Homo sapiens: one gene and its partners. The protein of the gene in region 5 purifies or fractionates together with the protein of the main gene of each other region. This does not show direct contact. Each region holds a gene or a part of one and is shown on either strand. Other genes may lie near its edges.

The links.
Region 1: the proteins of SLC25A29 (region 5) and SLC12A6 purify together in Homo sapiens (affinity purification with mass spectrometry; one large-scale study listed by BioGRID and IntAct). This does not show direct contact.
Region 2: the proteins of SLC25A29 (region 5) and OSTM1 purify together in Homo sapiens (co-immunoprecipitation; one large-scale study listed by IntAct). This does not show direct contact.
Region 3: the proteins of SLC25A29 (region 5) and TMED5 purify together in Homo sapiens (co-immunoprecipitation; one large-scale study listed by IntAct). This does not show direct contact.
Region 4: the proteins of SLC25A29 (region 5) and PCDHGB4 purify together in Homo sapiens (co-immunoprecipitation; one large-scale study listed by IntAct). This does not show direct contact.

The regions. Positions count from the first base shown.
Region 1 is NC_000015.10:34,331,275-34,334,793, forward strand, and holds part of SLC12A6 (solute carrier family 12 member 6), read right to left. Parts: intron 1-3,519.
Region 2 is NC_000006.12:108,064,742-108,068,260, reverse strand, and holds part of OSTM1 (osteopetrosis-associated transmembrane protein 1 precursor), read left to right. Parts: intron 1-3,519. UniProt on the Homo sapiens protein: Required for osteoclast and melanocyte maturation and function.
Region 3 is NC_000001.11:93,156,403-93,159,921, reverse strand, and holds part of TMED5 (transmembrane emp24 domain-containing protein 5 isoform 1 precursor), read left to right. Parts: intron 1-1,036; coding exon of another isoform or gene 1,037-1,107; intron 1,108-3,438; coding exon 3,439-3,519. UniProt on the Homo sapiens protein: Potential role in vesicular protein trafficking, mainly in the early secretory pathway. Required for the maintenance of the Golgi apparatus; involved in protein exchange between Golgi stacks during assembly.
Region 4 is NC_000005.10:141,390,690-141,394,208, forward strand, and holds part of PCDHGB4 (protocadherin gamma-B4 isoform 1 precursor), read left to right. Parts: intron 1-1,943; exon of another isoform or gene 1,944-2,124; coding exon of another isoform or gene 2,125-3,519. Other genes in the region: PCDHGA8 (protocadherin gamma-A8 isoform 1 precursor), read left to right, coding at 2,125-3,519. UniProt on the Homo sapiens protein: Potential calcium-dependent cell-adhesion protein. May be involved in the establishment and maintenance of specific neuronal connections in the brain.
Region 5 is NC_000014.9:100,299,936-100,303,454, reverse strand, and holds part of SLC25A29 (mitochondrial basic amino acids transporter), read left to right. Parts: intron 1-3,519. UniProt on the Homo sapiens protein: Mitochondrial transporter of arginine, lysine, homoarginine, methylarginine and, to a much lesser extent, ornithine and histidine. Does not transport carnitine nor acylcarnitines. Functions by both counter-exchange and uniport mechanisms.

The DNA of each region.
Region 1 (3,519 bases), on a different chromosome or scaffold from region 5:
GATTATAAGCATGCACCGCAACACCTGGCTAAGTTTTCATATTTTTAGTAGAGACGGGGTTTCACCATGTTGGCCAGGCTGGTCTCGAACGCCTGGCCTCAAGTGATCCGCCCGCCTTGGCCTCCCAAAGTGCTGAGATTACAGGCGTGAGCCACCGCGCCCAGCCTAGAGGCATTTTTTGAAAAGCTCTCTAGATCATTCATTATGCAGCCAGATGAAGTAGCACTACTCTCGTACATACATTAATATGCCTTTATCAGAGTACGTTTTTAATTTGTCTCTTGTTTTTAAGTCTACAAGATCTTCAACTCAATGTATATTTATGGTGTACAAGTTATATGTGATATCACATATTACACTAGGTGTAAATGATTTTGTATCCTTGTCCTCAAGAACCCTACAGCATAGTTGAGAAAGATAATATGTAAATAAAAACAAAATATAGTGATATAGGTATTATAGCAATATAGGGACAAAAAGAGCCTGGTTTATTATATCTGGATATGGGGTTCAATCAGAAAAGGTTTCAGAGAGGACATGACTCCTTAAAGAAAGGACTTATCTAAATTACTTTTATGTCTCTAACATCTCTCACAAAAACTTGGTTAACAGCCAGTCTCAAAGTTGTTACACTTAGACCTCAACTCTCCACTTCAGAAACCCACTCCAAGGCTACACACTAGATCACATTACATGAGAAATGCTCTACCTCTGAAATTGCTCACTCCAACAACATTCAACCGTCTGACCACAGTCTTTAATCTTTCTACACTTTTCACCACACTTTACCTTATCAAGTCCTCCAGTCTCTTAAGTGTCTCTATTTTATCTTAGTTGATCATTTTCCTTTGCCGTATTTTTGCATATTTCTATTGTTGGACTTATACAGCATTATAATTTATATACAAATGTGTTTGCTTTGTCTATTAGATCATAACTTTCCTTAGAACAGATTAACGGATGCTTTTTCTCTGTCTTTAACACCCAACATCTTTAACAGCCAGCCAGTGCCTTATCCTTAACTCATTGCTCAGAGTAACAAATATTTGGTGAAGGAATAAGTAAAGTGCTCTAGTCATTTTCACCATTATACCATGAGATCTGCAAAGGTAGAAACTATATGTTACCTGTATATTTCCTACAATTAATACCAGACTGCCTCATACATACCAGCGTCTCAGGGAGTATCTGTTGACTTATAAAAGGTTGAAATGTATTAGGGACTGCAGGCAGGGTGTATGGTTCACACCTGTAATCCCTGAGCTTTAGGAGGCCGAGGCAGGAGGATCATTTGAGGTCAGGAGTTTGAGACCAGCCTGGCCAACATGGTGAAACCCCATCTCTCCTAAAACACAAAATTTAGCCGGGTGTGGTTGCAGATGCCTGTAATCCCAGCTACTTGGGAGGCTGAGGCTGGAGAATCACTTGGACCAGGGAGGTGGAGGTTGCAGTGAGCCGAGATAGCGCCACTGCACTCCAGCCTGGGCGACAGCGCGAGACTTTGCCTCAAAAAAAAAAAAAGAAAAAGAAAAAAAGTATTAGGTCCTGCAAATGACATATAAAAATATGTTTTATAGCCACATGGTTATAAAGCACATGTAAAAAATGTTCATCATAGCAGAGGCAAAATGATGCAAGAAAGAGCACTAGATAAAAGTCAGGAGGCCTGAACTTCAGTCTTGGCTTTGCCACTTTGTGATCTACAAATAACCATCTCTATAAGCCTTAGTTTCCTCATTTATTTTGTTATTTTTTTAGTCTAATCTATTGGGGTTTTAAGTCTCCTCACTTATTAAAATGTGGTTTGATCAGAATAAGATTCTAGATCATTAGCTCTAACATGTGGTGCTTTTCAAAAAAATTACTATAAAAGTGATACACTATAAATACTTAAAAGTTGTATATGCCCTTAATTGTTTTGGTAAAAGAAAATTCCACTCTATTTTTTTTTCTTTTTCTTTTTTTTTTTTTTTGAGACAGAGTCTCGCTCTGTCACCCAGGCTGGAGTGCAGCGGCGTGATCTCAGCTCACTGCAACCTCCGCCTCCTGGATTCAAGCAATTCTCCTGTCAAGGCCTCCCGAGCAGCTGGGATTACAGGCGCACGCCGTCACGCCTGGCTAATTTTTTGTATTTTTAGTAGAGACAGGGTTTCACCGTGTTCCCCAGGCTGGTCTCGGACTCCTGAGCTCAGGGAATCCACCCGCCTCGGCCTCCCAAAGTGCTAGGATTACAGGCGTGAGCCACCGTGCCTGGCTCCACTCTATTTTTGTAACTCACTTTCCAGAGGCATCCACTCTCAACAGTTTCTTTTGTATCTTTAAGGCGTTCTTCATACATAAGCTAATACACTGCTAAGATTCTTGATTTTACCAACTGGACAGTCCTATAAATTCAAATGGAGCCTTGCCAAAATGAAAGAAAAATTACTTTGATAGCAGAAAGAAAACTACTCAGAAAGCCAACAGCAGAAAAAATTAAAATATACTGAAATAAGTATTTAAAACTTCATGTAGGGCTGGGCGCTGTGGCTCACGCCTGTAATCCCAGCACTTTGGGAGGCCAAGGTGGGTGTATCTCCTGAGGTCAGGAGTTTGAGACCAGGTTGACTAACATGATGAAACCCCATCTCTACTAAATACAAAAAATTAGCCAGGTGTGGTGGTGCATGCCTGTAATCTCAGCTACTTGGGAGGCTGAGGCAAAAGAATCACTGGAACCCGGGAGACAGAGATTGCAGTGAGTGGAGATTGCGCCCTTGTACCCCAGCCTGGGCAACAAGTGTGAAACTCCATCTCAAAAAAAAAAAAAACAAAAAAAACTTCATGTGTCACCTCCTGTTTGTGTGATGTAATGTGAGTAGAAGACATATGACAAGAAACTTCGGGTGGGAAGTTTCTCTACAGGAAGAAACGTGGGAGGCATGGGGGAAAGGAGAATCATACTAATGTCACAACCACAGAAGGATGTACAAAGGGTGAAAAAATTCAGAGAACTGTAAATACTAAAATAGCAAACTAACTGTGAAATGCACTATGAGCTTAAGGAGAGTCAACTGTAGAAAGGATGCAGTTGTTATCTATATTAAAGCCAGCCTAGAGGGAAGTGTATATTAACATTAGGCCCTTTTCTTCACAACAGCACCCTTTGAAGATCTACATCTAAATCTAACAAGGGCTTTCACATACTGAGAAGTCAAGGGTGAAATAATTGTGTTTCTAAGTGGTTTCTTCTAATGGTGGGGAAAATTTATCACATGATGACAGTCATCATAAGAATTTTTTTAAATATAGAAAGAAAAAAAAAGAGAAAAGGTAGGTCACTGAGAAAGTATAAAGTTCCACGAGAATAGGGCAAAGTCCTCTCTAATGGCCAGACTATTAATTTCCCTTTCATCTGGGTACCGGAGAATATTTAAACATTAAGTAAGGAATGTGTTATATAGAGAACCAAGCTTTTAACATCTGTAACCACGTAAACAAACATAAATTTCACTTAGATATGTCCCCATTTTTACCCCT
Region 2 (3,519 bases), on a different chromosome or scaffold from region 5:
TGAAGAATGAGTAGGAACACTAAGAGTTTAAGATTAAATAGAGGGTAAACTCTCAAAGGTGACTGAGAAGGAAGAATTGGAGAGATAAAGAAGAATGAGGAGAGCATGATGCCCTGTAAATCAAGGAAAAGGGAAGGGGTGGTTATTTGTGTCAAATCCTGCTGAGAGAATTGGAGATATATCTGTCAACACTGGCAGTATTGGTGACACTAACAAGAGTGAATTTGATGGAGTCCTTGGGTACGAAAGTGAGATCAGAGTGGGTTGAACAGGGATTGGAAGATGAGGACATGGGAAGAGTGAACCTAGACAACTGCTGAAGAGTTTGGCCTTGATGGGGAGATAAGAAAGAGAAGTCACTAAAGAGCAATGTGGGACTCAGAGACTTTCTTTCATTTCTCTTTCTCTATTTTTTTTTTTTTTTTTTTTTTTAGACAGAGGCTCGCTCTGTCAACCAAGCTGGAGTGCATGGCACAATCTCGGCTCACTGCAACCTCCACCATCCCAGGTTCAAGCGATTCTCCAGCCTCAGCCTCCTGAGTAGCTGGGACTATGGGTGTGCACCACCACACCCAGCTAATTTTATACTTTTAGTAGAGATGGGGTTTCACCAGGTTGGCTGGACTGGTCTCGAACTCCTGACCTTAGGTGATCTGCCTGCCTCGGCCTCCCAAAGTATTGGGATACAGGCGTGAGCCACGGTGCCAGGCTGACTTTCTATCATTTCTTTCCATTCCCCTGTCCCTCCATTCCTCTGTCCTGCCTTCCCTTCTTCCTTGTCCAAGATGGGAGAGAGCTGGACATGTTTAAATGTTGATAGTAAGGGTCCTTTAGAGAAAGTGAAGATTCTGTAGGAGGGAGTGGGAAGCAGACAAGGTCAGTTTCCAGAAAAGGCAGGATAGATGGGATCTAGGGCATCCTCAGAGAGATGGGCCTTGAAAAGGACAGGTGCCTTCCCCACCTTAATGGGAGGGTAGAAGGAGAGGTTGCATGTAGGGGTAGGCAGGTTAGAGTTTCAGCTCGAAGGCTTCTGTTATCCAGGAGGCTAGATCTTCTTTTGAGAGTAAAGAGTGGGAGAGAGATCAGAGTTTCTGGGAGAGTGGAGAGGATTTGAAATAGCGGTTGTAAAAAGGAGAGAATGAGCAGACAGAAAAGTGAGGAGTACGGTTTGGGATTATGGATTTACTTTGGAATTAATCTGTGTTGTTAATTTTTTGCCAGCAGCTCCTGACTTCCTGGGTGCAGGCATGATCAAAGGAAATGGCTGGCTTCAAGATGGTTAGGGTTCTGCTAAGTAGTTAGGATAGATTTGAGTATTAAGAGTTCTAAGTATAAGCAAGGACCATTGATTTTTTGGTCACTTGGCGAGGTGTTGGGAATACAAAGATGTGACAGTTTCCATTTTAAAGGGACATCTGTCCAGAAGAGAAACCTAAACATATATAGGTGGATATCATGCTTTAAGAAACCATGCATCAGGGTAATGACGCATGGGTCCCACATTGCTCTTTAGTGACCTCTCTTTCTTATCTCCCCATCAAGGCCAAACTCTTCAGCAGTTGTCTAGGTTCACTCTTCCCATGTCCTCATCTTCCATTCCCTGTTCAACCCACTCTGATCTCACTTTCACACTCAAGGACTCCATCAAATTCATTCTTGTTAGTGTCACCAATACTGCCAGTGTTGACAGATGTACCTCCAGTTCTCTCAGCAGGATTTGACACAAATAACCACCCCTTCCCTTTTCCTTGATTTACAGGACATCATGCTCTCCTTATTTTTCTTTATCTCTCCAATTCTTCCTTCTCAGTCACCTCTGATAGTTTACCCTCTACCCAGCTAACACTACCTATTTCATAGAGTTGTTATGAGGATTAAATAAGGAAGTTGGAACATTTGGAACTGGTAAGTAGTAAGTACCTCATCATCGTTTGGATTATTAATCATTTCCTTTCTGTCCTCACTGTTGCCATCATCCTTTCATTATACCTGATCTATGGAAGTAGTGTAATGAGTCTCCCTGCCTCCTCACCCTACATATCACGGCCTAAAGATGTATTCCTCAAACTGCTTTTCATGACACCCTCCTCATAAATCTTAAAGAATTTCTCACTGGCTAACTCTCATGACCCTCACGGCCTCTCATAACCTTGTTCTAACTTAGCCCTTTAATAGCCCTACTTTCATAGACTACTGAATACTCTCCGAATACCACATAATCATTATCACTTTCACCCCATGATCATTTAATTCTTCTATTTTCGAATCCTCTTCTCTTCCTCAATATAGGGCTTAGTTCATATCCTGCTTCCTTCATGAACTCTTTCCTAATTTCTCAAAACTACATTGATATCTTCCTGAACCGAACTGTTCCACACATTGAACACTCATACAGGCTCTACTGTATTGATTTTTAAAATAGCCAGTCACCCACTTATGAAGATTCAACTTAACCAACTAATGACACTTATCCAACTAAACCTACTTAGAGCACTTCAGGTTGGCAGCATGGTAGCTAGGTGAAATAGCATATATCAGTCACTGTGTGCCAGACAGTGTGCTGAGTGATTAATGTATGCTATTTCATTTAATACAGTAACTGTAGGACCCCTGATTTTGAAACTGAACCTTAGCGAGGTTGGGTCAGCTGCCCAAGGTCACTAGCTAGTGACCCAGGCTTGTATTAATACAATATTATTACTTCTACTTAAGAAGTGATAATAGGCCAGGCATGGTGGCTCATGCCTGTAATCCCAGCACTTTGGGAGGCCGAGGCAGGTGGATCGTCTGAGGTCAGGAGTTCGAGACCAGTCAGGCCAACATGGTGAAACCCCGTCTGTACTAAAAATAAAAATTAGCCAAGCATGGTGGCATGTGCCTGTAGTCCCAGCTGCTCGGGCGGCTAAGGCAGGAGGATCGCTTGAACCCAGGAGGCAGATGTTGCAGTGAGCTGAGATTGCGTCACTGCACTCCAGCCTGGGCGATAGAGTGAGACTCCATCTCAAAAAAAAAAAAAAAAAAGTGATAATAGAAAATTTTCTTCTATGGCTGGTATTGCTCAGAAGGTAATTCTAAAAAAGAGTTTTAAAATGTTCTGTTCATGGCCAGGTGCAGTGGCTCATGCCTATAATCCCAGCACTTTGGGAGGCCGAGGTGGATGGATCATTTGAGTTCAGGAGTTCAAGATCAGCCTGGCCAACATAGTGAAACCCCGTCTCTACTACAAACACAAAAATTAGCTGGGTGTGGTGGCATGTGCCTGTAGTCCCAGCTACCTGGGAGGCTGTGGCATGAGAATCGCTTGGATTTTATATTTTAAAGCAGAAATTCTTCCTTTTCTCCCTCTTTTCTCCTTTTTTCCATTTCTTCTCCCACATGACTGACCATTTGTTTCCCAGGAGTTACCACTCTTTTATTATTCATCACACTGTATAACTCCTTGTCTGTGTAACTGCGAGAGGTTCTCAAAGCCCCAGAATTGATGGCATTCTTTTATACTTTTTATATCCTCAGAACTTC
Region 3 (3,519 bases), on a different chromosome or scaffold from region 5:
AGGCTAAATTTTTTCTGTGCTTTGGTTAGTAAATTAGTATTCCCCTGGTATTCCATTCAATCTATCGTGGCATTTTAAACCTGCCTTCTGGCCAGCACAAGCTTTCTATTTTAACTTAAAGCTACTGTTCCAGGTATATGTCTTAAAGTTTCTTGAGCTGCTGGCTATATGCCATTTTTGTCCATAGTTTTCTTTCTTAAAACAGGACAGTATATCTTTGTGTGTACGTAAATTTTTTTTTTTTATTCAGACCTCATTCGTTTTAGGTAATTAGAAGGCCTGAAAGTAAAAGATCTGATCATAGGGAACTATATAAAAATAAAATACTTGTTATAACTCTTTGAGTTCAGAGTTCAGCAAAAGACCATATATTCTTCTTCTGACACCTCACTTCCCTCTTTTCATATCTCACTGGTATGTTTCCTGGTTCCATTCTATTATCTTACTATAACATTTTCTTAAGTCAGTTTTGTTATATGTTTAAACTGTGAGTCTGTAGGAAGAAGAGCAAATATGGAGTATCTAGTATTTGCTATAAACAAGGGTTGGCATGTTATAGGCTTCTAAATTAATCTTTCCATTACACTATGAGATAGAGTCTTTGACTCAAGATTCCCATTTTATAGACAAGGAGGCTCAGAGAAGTCAAATAAGTCTCCAGGGATACACATGCAGGGTGGAGACAGGATGGACCAAAACTCTTTGCTTTCTACCATATGCTTAGAACATCCCTGGTACATAACACTATTGTAAGAACTAGCTATTATTAAAATTATTGGTCTTTGTTAACCAAAATGCCTGATACATAATCGATACTCAGTAAACACTGAATACATGTATGAATGGATGAGAGGAAAAAAATGTCTCAACAATAATTTTTTAAGATACTCATTTAAAATGCATTTTAAATGGCATTTTACCTATGCAGAGCTCAGAAAAATATTTGCATAAGCTATTACTAAATAAGATAGAAATAGTAATTTTAAAAGTCAGTTTATATTGATATACTTGGAATTAACTGTTTTCTCTTTGATAGGTGTATAAGAAGTAAAAATGGGCCAGGCACTGCGGTTCACGCCTATAATCCCAGCACTTTCCGAGGCCAAGGTGGGTGGATCACGAGGTCAAGAAATTGAGACCATCCTGGCCAACATGGTGAAACCTTGTCTCTACTAAAAATACAAAAATTAGCTGGTCATGGTGGCACACGCCTGTAGTCCCAGCTACTTGGGAGGCTGAGGCAGAATTGCTTGAACCCCGGAGGCGGAGGTTGCAGTGAGCTGAGATGGCGCCGCTGTACTCCAGCCTGGCGACAGAGACTCCATCTCAAAAAAAAAAACAAAACTAAAAATGTAGTTCATCTTTTAAGTTTCAGAATTTTAAAAATGTTCAAAATGTATGTCAGTCTTTATTTCTCCCCAATTATTTGCTCCCTTTTTGAGATAATAAAATTCACTGTTAGAAAAATAAGTATCTTACTGCTTCCTTGTGTAGAATTACCTCTCATTAAATAATTGGGAGAAAATAATTGAGTTTATAATAGTTCACATTTATTGCATTCTTTTGATATGCCAGGCCAGTGTTCTCAGCACTTTTCATGTACTAATTTTTTTATTCTTAACCACAGTCCTATGACGTAAATATTATTTTACCAATGGGGAAACTGAGGCATAGAACAATTAAGTTGCTGAAGGTTACACAGCTAGTGAACGGCAAAGCCAGGATATACATTCAGGCAGTCCAACTCACTATTAATCACTATACCAGATTTACAAATTTTTTTTTTTTTTTTTTTTTTTGAGACGGAGTCTCACTCTGTTGCCCAGCTGGAGTGCAGTGGCGCGATCTCGGCTCACTGCAAGCTCCGCCTCCTGGGTTCACGCCATTCTCCTGCCTCGGCCTCCTGAGTAGCTGGGACTACAGGCGCCCGCCACCACGCCCGGCTAATTTTTTGTCTTTTTAGTAGAGACGGGGTTTCACCGTGTTAGCCAGGATGGTCTGGATCTCCTGACCTCGTGATCTGCCTGCCTCGGCCTCCCAAAGTGCTGGGATTATAGGCGTGAGCCACTGTGCCCGGCCTACAAATCTGTTTTTTAAACATTAAACAAAGCTTTTATCTTTAGCTATATTAATTTTGTAAGAGCAGCAAACATCTGAGTATGTCACTGGTTTTTCTTAAGTAGGCTTTTTCTTTTTCTTTTAAATGTAATTTCTTTTTTAAAGACAAGGTCTCACTATGTTGCCCAGGCCAGAGTGCAATGGTGTGACCATAGCTTACTGCAGCCTAAAGTACTGGGCTCAACCAAGCCTCCCGAGTAGCTAGGACTACAGGTGTGTACTCGGCTAATTTTTTAATTTTTGTAGAGACAAGGTCTCACTTTTGCCCAGGCTAATCTCGAACCCCTGGCCTACAGTAATCCTGCCTCAGACTCCCAAAGCGCTGTGATTGTAGGTATGAGCCACCGCACCTGGCCCTGCTTTTAACTTTCGCTAATATGGGAAACTAATTTTAACTAGGGTACTGGTAATTCAGATATTATTCATTTTTTTCTTCAGCACTTGGCATAATTAATGATGGGCTGAATTACCTTTATAGAATTAAATAATAAAATATAAACTAGTTTTATTTAATTCTCAAAAAAAGCATTTAGGATCAAACATAAACATCTATAAGGGAGCCAGTGGCAGTTAATAGGCAAAATCAGTAAGAGGCCTGGAAGAAGACATTTAGGACAATCCATCACTGCTTTTGAAAACAAAACTCAGTTTAATCTCAGTTGTAGGGTAGGTTGGCAGTCATATCTGCATATGAATTGAACTCATGATAAAATACTTTTAATAATGTATAAATATTAAAGTTTATTATGAGTTATGTATACAGGTTTTTAATTCTATCCTTTTCCAAAAATGAGGTCACTAACCATAATTTACTGAGTAAATGCCAAACATGTCTAAGTTGTACTTGAACATATATATTTTCAGGTTGCTTCTTTCCCAAGAAATTATAAATTATCTTTCAATACTAAGGAAATTTATGGGTAAGCTGTCCAATTACTATAAACTATGTTATTTGTTTTTTGTTTTGTTGGTTTCTTTTTTTTTTTTTTTTTTTTTGAGACAGGATCTTGCTCTGTTGCCCAGGCTGGAGTGCAGTGGCATGATCATGCCTCACTGCATCTTCAACCTTCCGGGCTCAAGCAATCCTCACACTCTGCTAATTTTTGTTATTTTTTTGTAGAGACAGGATTTTGCCATGTTACCCAGGCTGGTCTCAAACTCCTGAGCTAAAGTGATCTACCAGCCTTGCCCTCTCAAAATGCTGGGATTACAGGTGTGAGGCAACACACTCAGCCTGTTACTTCTTATTTTTACCTTTAGTTGCTTTTCATCACAAATAGAAATACAGGTAACTTAAAACATGTACTTTTTTTTATACAGTGTAGAGACTGAAGTTGGTGATTACATGTTCTGCTTTGACAATACATTCAGCACCATTTCTGAGAAGGTGATTTTCTTTGA
Region 4 (3,519 bases), on a different chromosome or scaffold from region 5:
AAGCTAAAATTCAACACTTTTCTTAACTAATTTAACTGGTATGGTCTCCATAGTAGTCCACTGTTTTGTTTCCTGTGTTAACTTCCCTTTTGTTTCAAAAGCTCTTAGAATAAGGAGTCAACTGGATTTTTATGTCCATGGACCCCTTGTGATTATATGCAGTGTACGCTGTGTGTGCGTGTGTGTGTGTGTGTGTGTGAGAGAGATCCTTTTACTTAGAAAAAGGTCTACTATGCTCATTAGAAGATCAAAAGCAGATTCTCCTTACTTGTAACATAGGAGTTTCAGGATTAATCTGTATTCAAGCTCATTCTATATCCTTCATCAAAGAAAAGACAATGTTTTGTGTCTGTTGTCCCTCTCACACACAGCCCTAATATATAATGTGTAACTGCCTTATCTGCAGCCCTAAACTAATATAGCTAGAGGTCTTCTAATCATTCTCCTACCTCTAGGAAAGAAATATAGTCTTGAAAACTGCCAATCTGGTGTGCATACAAAATATATACAAAATACCAAGGAACATTATATGAGCCTTTTGCTAGGTATATCTAAGCAACTGCTTCAGTTAATGGCCACTTTACAAATTGCTGAAAGAAGGAAACGTCTTTCGATTCTTTTTTTTTTCTTTTTTTTTTTTTGAGACAGAGTCTCTGTCTGTTACTCAGGCTGTAGTGCAGTGGCACAATGATAGCTCCCTCCAGCCTCAAACTCCTGGGCTCAAGCATTCCTTCTGCATCAGCCTCCTGACTAGCTGGAACTCAGGCTCATGCCACCAGACCTGGCTAATTTTTCTGTTTTCAGTAGAGAAAATATTTTCTTTCACTAATTTAACTGGTATGGTTTCCATTGTCTACCCAGTTTTCCATATGCATAAGAAAATATATTCACAGGAAAATATAAAGTTTTCAGATTTCATGAGTGGTTTTAAGAAAGTTTTAGTCAGTGAAAAAACTATCATACCAGTCTTCAAAGGAAGGGTGAAATAAGTTCATCTGCTACGTTGCCCAGGCTGGTCTTGAAGGGAAACAGACTTTTTTGTAGTCATACTTATCCTTTGGCTTCTTAGTAAGTATTATATAGTCATTACTTTTTGCAGTTTTTTAGATCAAAGTGTTAATGTAGGTAAAGTTAATTTTAGAATATATGTAAAAGTCAAGTCTGCTTTAAATTTAATCATCTCTTTGGTGAAAGGGATGGGATGGAGCTTTGCTTTTTATCATATATTCATCTGTACCTTTCAAGTATTCAAATAGAAAAATATAAACAATGTAAATAAAATAGCAAAACAATGTAATATCTCATAAAACTGCAATGGTAAAAGCATTTATCCTATTGAAATTCCACAATTTTTATTTGAAAATATTATCGACATGTAATTCAAGTGGCATTTAGAAGAATAATTTAAAAGCAACAACTCTATAGAAAGCTTGTAAAATGATTAAGTAGTTTAAACCAAATAAAACAATTTCTGAGTCAGTCATCTCCAGTAGGTCTATTTTAGTCTCAAGATAAATTCATTTCTGGTGACAACTGAAGTTCTTAGTTATTTGTTAGTATATATTGGAGACATTTACAATAAAGCTTAGAGCACAATGGGAAATGAAAGTATCATGTTTTTTTTAAGACCAAATGTATTGCAGAAATGTGAGTAATTTAATCCGATGCTACAATCTGATCATTCTGATCTAATCTGATCATTTAATAACACTAAATAAAACCTTCATCTCACATTCTTTGGCTGTTTCTTTTAAAATATGGGTTTACGGATAAATCAAATAAATTCAAAACAAAGTAATAAGCAAATGATTTTTTTTTCTCAGTAATCTAGTAGAGTATTACATTTAGAAGTAATCTGTATCTCAGTGCAGTAACTATTTAGGACTGTAAGCGCCGCTGTTCACCTACTGGAAGACAAATGCAACCGAAAACACTCAGATCTCACACCTCACGAAGACCCGCAGATGCCACAAACTAACTGCTGGACTGCAGCGAAACCCGACCCCTGTTTGGAGGCACTCCAGGTTTCCGGAGGATTGTCATCTCCATAGCTGCGGCAAGAAACTAAATAAGACCCATTTATGCACAGTGAAGATTCTGAGAGGATTCTGCAGCAAAACAACAATGGCCGCTCCACAGAGTCGCCCCAGACGCGGCGAGCTGATCCTGCTGTGCGCGCTGCTGGGAACGCTGTGGGAAATCGGGAGGGGACAGATTCGCTACTCTGTGCCAGAAGAGACGGACAAAGGCTCCTTCGTGGGTAATATCTCCAAGGACCTGGGGCTGGACCCCCGGAAGCTGGCGAAGCACGGAGTCCGTATCGTCTCCAGAGGTAGGACGCAGCTCTTTGCTCTGAACCCGCGCAGCGGCAGCTTGATCACCGCGGGCAGGATAGATCGGGAGGAGCTCTGCGCTCAGAGCCCGCGGTGTCTGATAAATATTAACACCCTGGTTGAGGATAAAGGAAAACTCTTTGGGGTAGAAATAGAAATAATTGATATTAACGATAATAACCCAAAATTCCAGGTCGAAGATCTAGAAGTAAAAATTAACGAAATCGCGGTTCCTGGAGCACGTTATCCACTCCCAGAAGCTGTTGACCCGGATGTGGGCGTGAACTCCCTCCAGAGCTACCAGCTCAGCCCCAATCACCACTTCTCCCTGGACGTGCAGACTGGAGACAATGGAGCCATAAACCCAGAGCTGGTGCTGGAGCGCGCCCTGGACAGGGAGGAAGAGGCTGCTCACCACCTGGTCCTCACGGCCTCGGATGGCGGCAAGCCGCCTCGCTCTAGCACAGTGCGCATCCACGTGACAGTGTTGGATACAAATGACAATGCCCCGGTTTTTCCTCACCCGATTTACCGAGTGAAAGTCCTTGAGAACATGCCCCCAGGCACGCGGCTGCTTACTGTAACAGCCAGCGACCCGGATGAGGGAATCAACGGAAAAGTGGCATACAAATTCCGGAAAATTAATGAAAAACAAACTCCGTTATTCCAGCTTAATGAAAATACTGGGGAAATATCAATAGCAAAAAGTCTAGATTATGAAGAATGTTCATTTTATGAAATGGAAATACAAGCCGAAGATGTGGGGGCACTTCTGGGGAGGACCAAATTGCTCATTTCGGTGGAAGATGTAAATGACAATAGACCAGAAGTGATCATTACGTCTTTGTTTAGCCCAGTGTTAGAAAATTCTCTTCCCGGGACAGTAATTGCCTTCTTGAGTGTGCATGACCAAGACTCTGGAAAGAATGGTCAAGTTGTCTGTTACACACGTGATAATTTACCTTTTAAATTAGAAAAGTCAATAGGTAATTATTATAGATTAGTGACAAGGAAATATTTGGACCGAGAAAATGTCTCTATCTACAATATCACAGTGATGGCCTCAGATCTAGGAACACCACCTCTGTCCACTGAAACTCAAATCGCTCTGCACGTGGCAGACATTAACGACAACCCTCCTACTTTCCCTCATGCCTCCTACTCAGCGTATATCCTAGAGAACAAC
Region 5 (3,519 bases):
TGGCGTAAGGGTCTTTCTGCTCTCTCCCTCCCACGCCTTGCTGCTGTTGCTGTCACCTGGGCAGGTCTGGGGCCAGAGGCGTGACCATGCACCCACAGGAAGGGGACCCCACAGCTGGACCTAGCTTCAAGGGACATGGAGGGGCCTCGAGGGGCCCCCTGCTGGAGGGAGAAGTAAAGTCCAGTGGCACATCCTGGGCAAGTGTTCAGTTTCCAAAACCGAGGGAAATCCAGATACTTCCCAAGAAAAGAGGTTCTAGAACGAGGATTTTCAGCTTTAGAAAATTAAAAAGCTGAAGTGGAAAAGAGGATGGATTTCCTGTTTCCAGGATGCAAAGGCCTCCCAGAAAATCAGAAACCCAAATGGAAGTCATGAAAGAAAAGATAGGCTTGGTGGTTGCTTCTTCATTCACCTGTGAATGTTAGAGGCTCTGGAAGAAGAAGGAACAGGTCTGGAGATGATTAATATGATGAATAAATAATAGTGGAAATTTTCCCTGATCAGAAGAGGGCATGAGTCTGCACAGTGAAAGTGTTGGTAGAGCTCCAGGCAGGGTTACTTTAAAGAAAAAGACACACCCTTGGCATCTCCTGGTGACATTCTTGAAATCCACAGATAAAATCTCAGCGACCTCCCACAGAATAAATAAACCATTGACAAAGGAGAAAAAAAAAAAAAACATTGGCAGCAGATTTCTCATCTGCAGCACTGAAAGCCAGAGGACCAAGGCTGGCCTGGGCCCAGGATTCTCAACCAGAGCATTCATACTGTTCCCCAACCAGATTAAGAAATAGATTTTGAGCCGGGCTCAGTGGCTTACACCTGTAATCCCAGCACTTCGGGAGGCTGAGATGGGTGGATCACGAGGTCAAGAGATCGAGACCCTCCTGGCCAACATGGTGAAACCCCATTTCTAAAAATATAAAAATTAACTGGGTGTGGTGGCACGCACCTGTAGTCCCAGCTACACAGGAGGCTGAGGCAGGAGAATCACTTAAACCCGGGAGACAGAGGTTGCAGTGAGCCGAGATCGCGCCATTGCACTCCGGCCTGGGTGACAGAGCAAGACTATCTCAAAAAAAAAAAAAAAAAGAAAGAAATAGATTTTGGGCCGAGCTTGGTGGCTCAAGCCTGTAATCCCAGCACTTTGGGAGGCCGAGGCAGGTGGCTCACTTGAGGTCGGGAGTTCAAGACCAGCCTGGCCAACATGGCAAAACCCCGCCTCTACTAAAAATACAAAAATTAGCCGGGTGTGGTGGCGGGAGCCTGTAATTCCAGCTATTCGGGAGGCTGAAACACAAAAATCACTTGAACCTGGGAGGTGGAGGTTTCAGTGAACTGAGATTGTGCCATTGCATTCCAGCCTGGGCGACAGAGTGAGACTCTGTCTCAAAAAAAAAAAAAGAAAGGCTCTAATGAAATGGCAGTTGATGAGTAGAGACCCCAAGATTGAAGGAGAGGGCATCGTTGTGCATTGAGTCTCACGGTCTCAATGAGGAAAATGTCAATGGAAGGTGGCAGGGATGGGAGCCTTCTTCGGGTAGCTCTTACTGGGGTGGGTGGGGCAGAAGGAGGCAGAGAGTCGTGGGGGAGGCGGTGCTTACCCTGTTTCTATATAATGATTAGACGTATTAGAAGCAGGAAGTGCCGGGCGTGGTGGCTCACACCTGTAATCCCAGCACTTTGGGTGGCCGAGGCGGGTGGATCACGAGGTCAGGAGATCGAGACCATCCTGGCTAACAAAGGTGAAACCCCGTCTCTACTAAATATGCAAAAAATTAGCCAGGCGTGGTGGCGGGCACCTGTATTCCCATCTACTCGGGAGGCTGAGGCAGGAGAATGGCGTGAACCTGGGAGGCAGAGCTTGCAGTGAGTCGAGATCGTGCCACTGCACTCCAGCCTAGGTCTCAAAAAATAAATAAATAAAAATAAAAAGCAGGAAGTAACCCTTTGCTGAAATTACAAATTAACAATTAGAAAGGGAATAAATAGCTGGGCGTGGTGGCTCACGCCTGTAATCCCAGCACTTTGGGAGGCCGAGGCAGGCGGATCAATGAGGTCATGAGTTTTAGACCAGCCTGGCCAACATGGCGAAACCCCTTCTCTACTAAAAATACAAAAATTAGCTGGGTGTGGTGGGGTGGGCCTGTAGTCCTGCTGAGGCAGGAGAATCACTTGAACCTGGGAGGCAGAGGTTGCAGTCAGCCCAGATCGCGCAACGGCACTAGCAAGACTCTCAAAAAAAGAAAGGGAATAGGCCAGGCGTGGTGGCTAAAGTCTGTAATCCCAGCACTTTGGGAGGCCAAAGTGGGCGGGCCACAAGGTCAGGAGATCGACACCATCCTGGCTAACATGGTGAAACTCTGTCTCTACTAAACATACAAAAAATTAGCCAGGTGTGGTGGCGGGCGCCTGTAGTCCCAGCTACTCGGGAGGCTGAGGCAGGAGAATGGCATGAACCCGGGAGGTGGAGCTTGCAGTGAGCCGAGACCGCAACACTACACTCCAGCCTGGGCGACAGAGCGAGACTCTGTCTCAAAAAATAAAAAATAAATAAAAGAAAGGGAATAAATAGTAATTTTCCCAAACCATCAAAAGTATGGAAAAAGGAGTAAAATAAACCATTTACATAAAATAAAGTGGCATAAAAATGTCAGATCCCTCAGTTGTTCCAGCAAAATCAGACTGCTTTAGACTGGGTTAGAAAACAAAATCCAGATACAGTTGTTTACAACAAACATCTAAAAGAAGATAGTAAGAAAAGGTTCAAAACTACACATTGGGCACAGTGGCTCATGTCTGTAATCCCAGCACTTTGGGAGGCTTGGCTTTTTTTGAAGTCAGGAGTTTTCTTGAACAAAGCCTGGGCAGCATGGCAAGACCCATCCTGCCAAAATTACAAAAATTAGCTGGGTGTGGTGGCTCATGCCTGTTGTCTCAGCTACTTGGGAGGCTAAGGCAGGAGGGTCGATTGAGCCCAGGAGGTGGAGGTTGCAGTGAGCCAAGATTATGCCACTGCACTCCAGTTTGGGTGACAGAGTGAGATCTTGTCTCAAAAAACAAAAACACCAAAATTACAAGTTGGACAAAACCATACCAGTCACATGTAACCAAAGAGAAAGCAGAACTGGCAAAGTTAAAGTGAGTATCAAGTGGGTTTTAGGGTCCAAACTTTTTTTTCTTTTTGAAACGGAGTCTTGCTCTCTGGGTCGCTGGAGTGCAGTAGCGCGATCTCAGCTCACTGCAACTTCTGCCTCCTGGATTCAAGCAATTCTCCCACCTCAGCCTCCTGAGTAGCTGGGACTATAGGCACCCGCCACCACACCTGGCTAATTTTTGTATTTTTAGTAGAGACGGGGTTTCACCATGTTGGCTAGGCTGGTTTTGAACTCCTGATCTCAAGTGATCTGCCCACCTTGGCCTCCCAAAGTGCTGGGATTACAGGCGTGAGCCACCACACCTGGCCAGGTCCAAAGTATTAAAGGATGGATAGGATGTTAGGTAAAGATACAAAGTTCA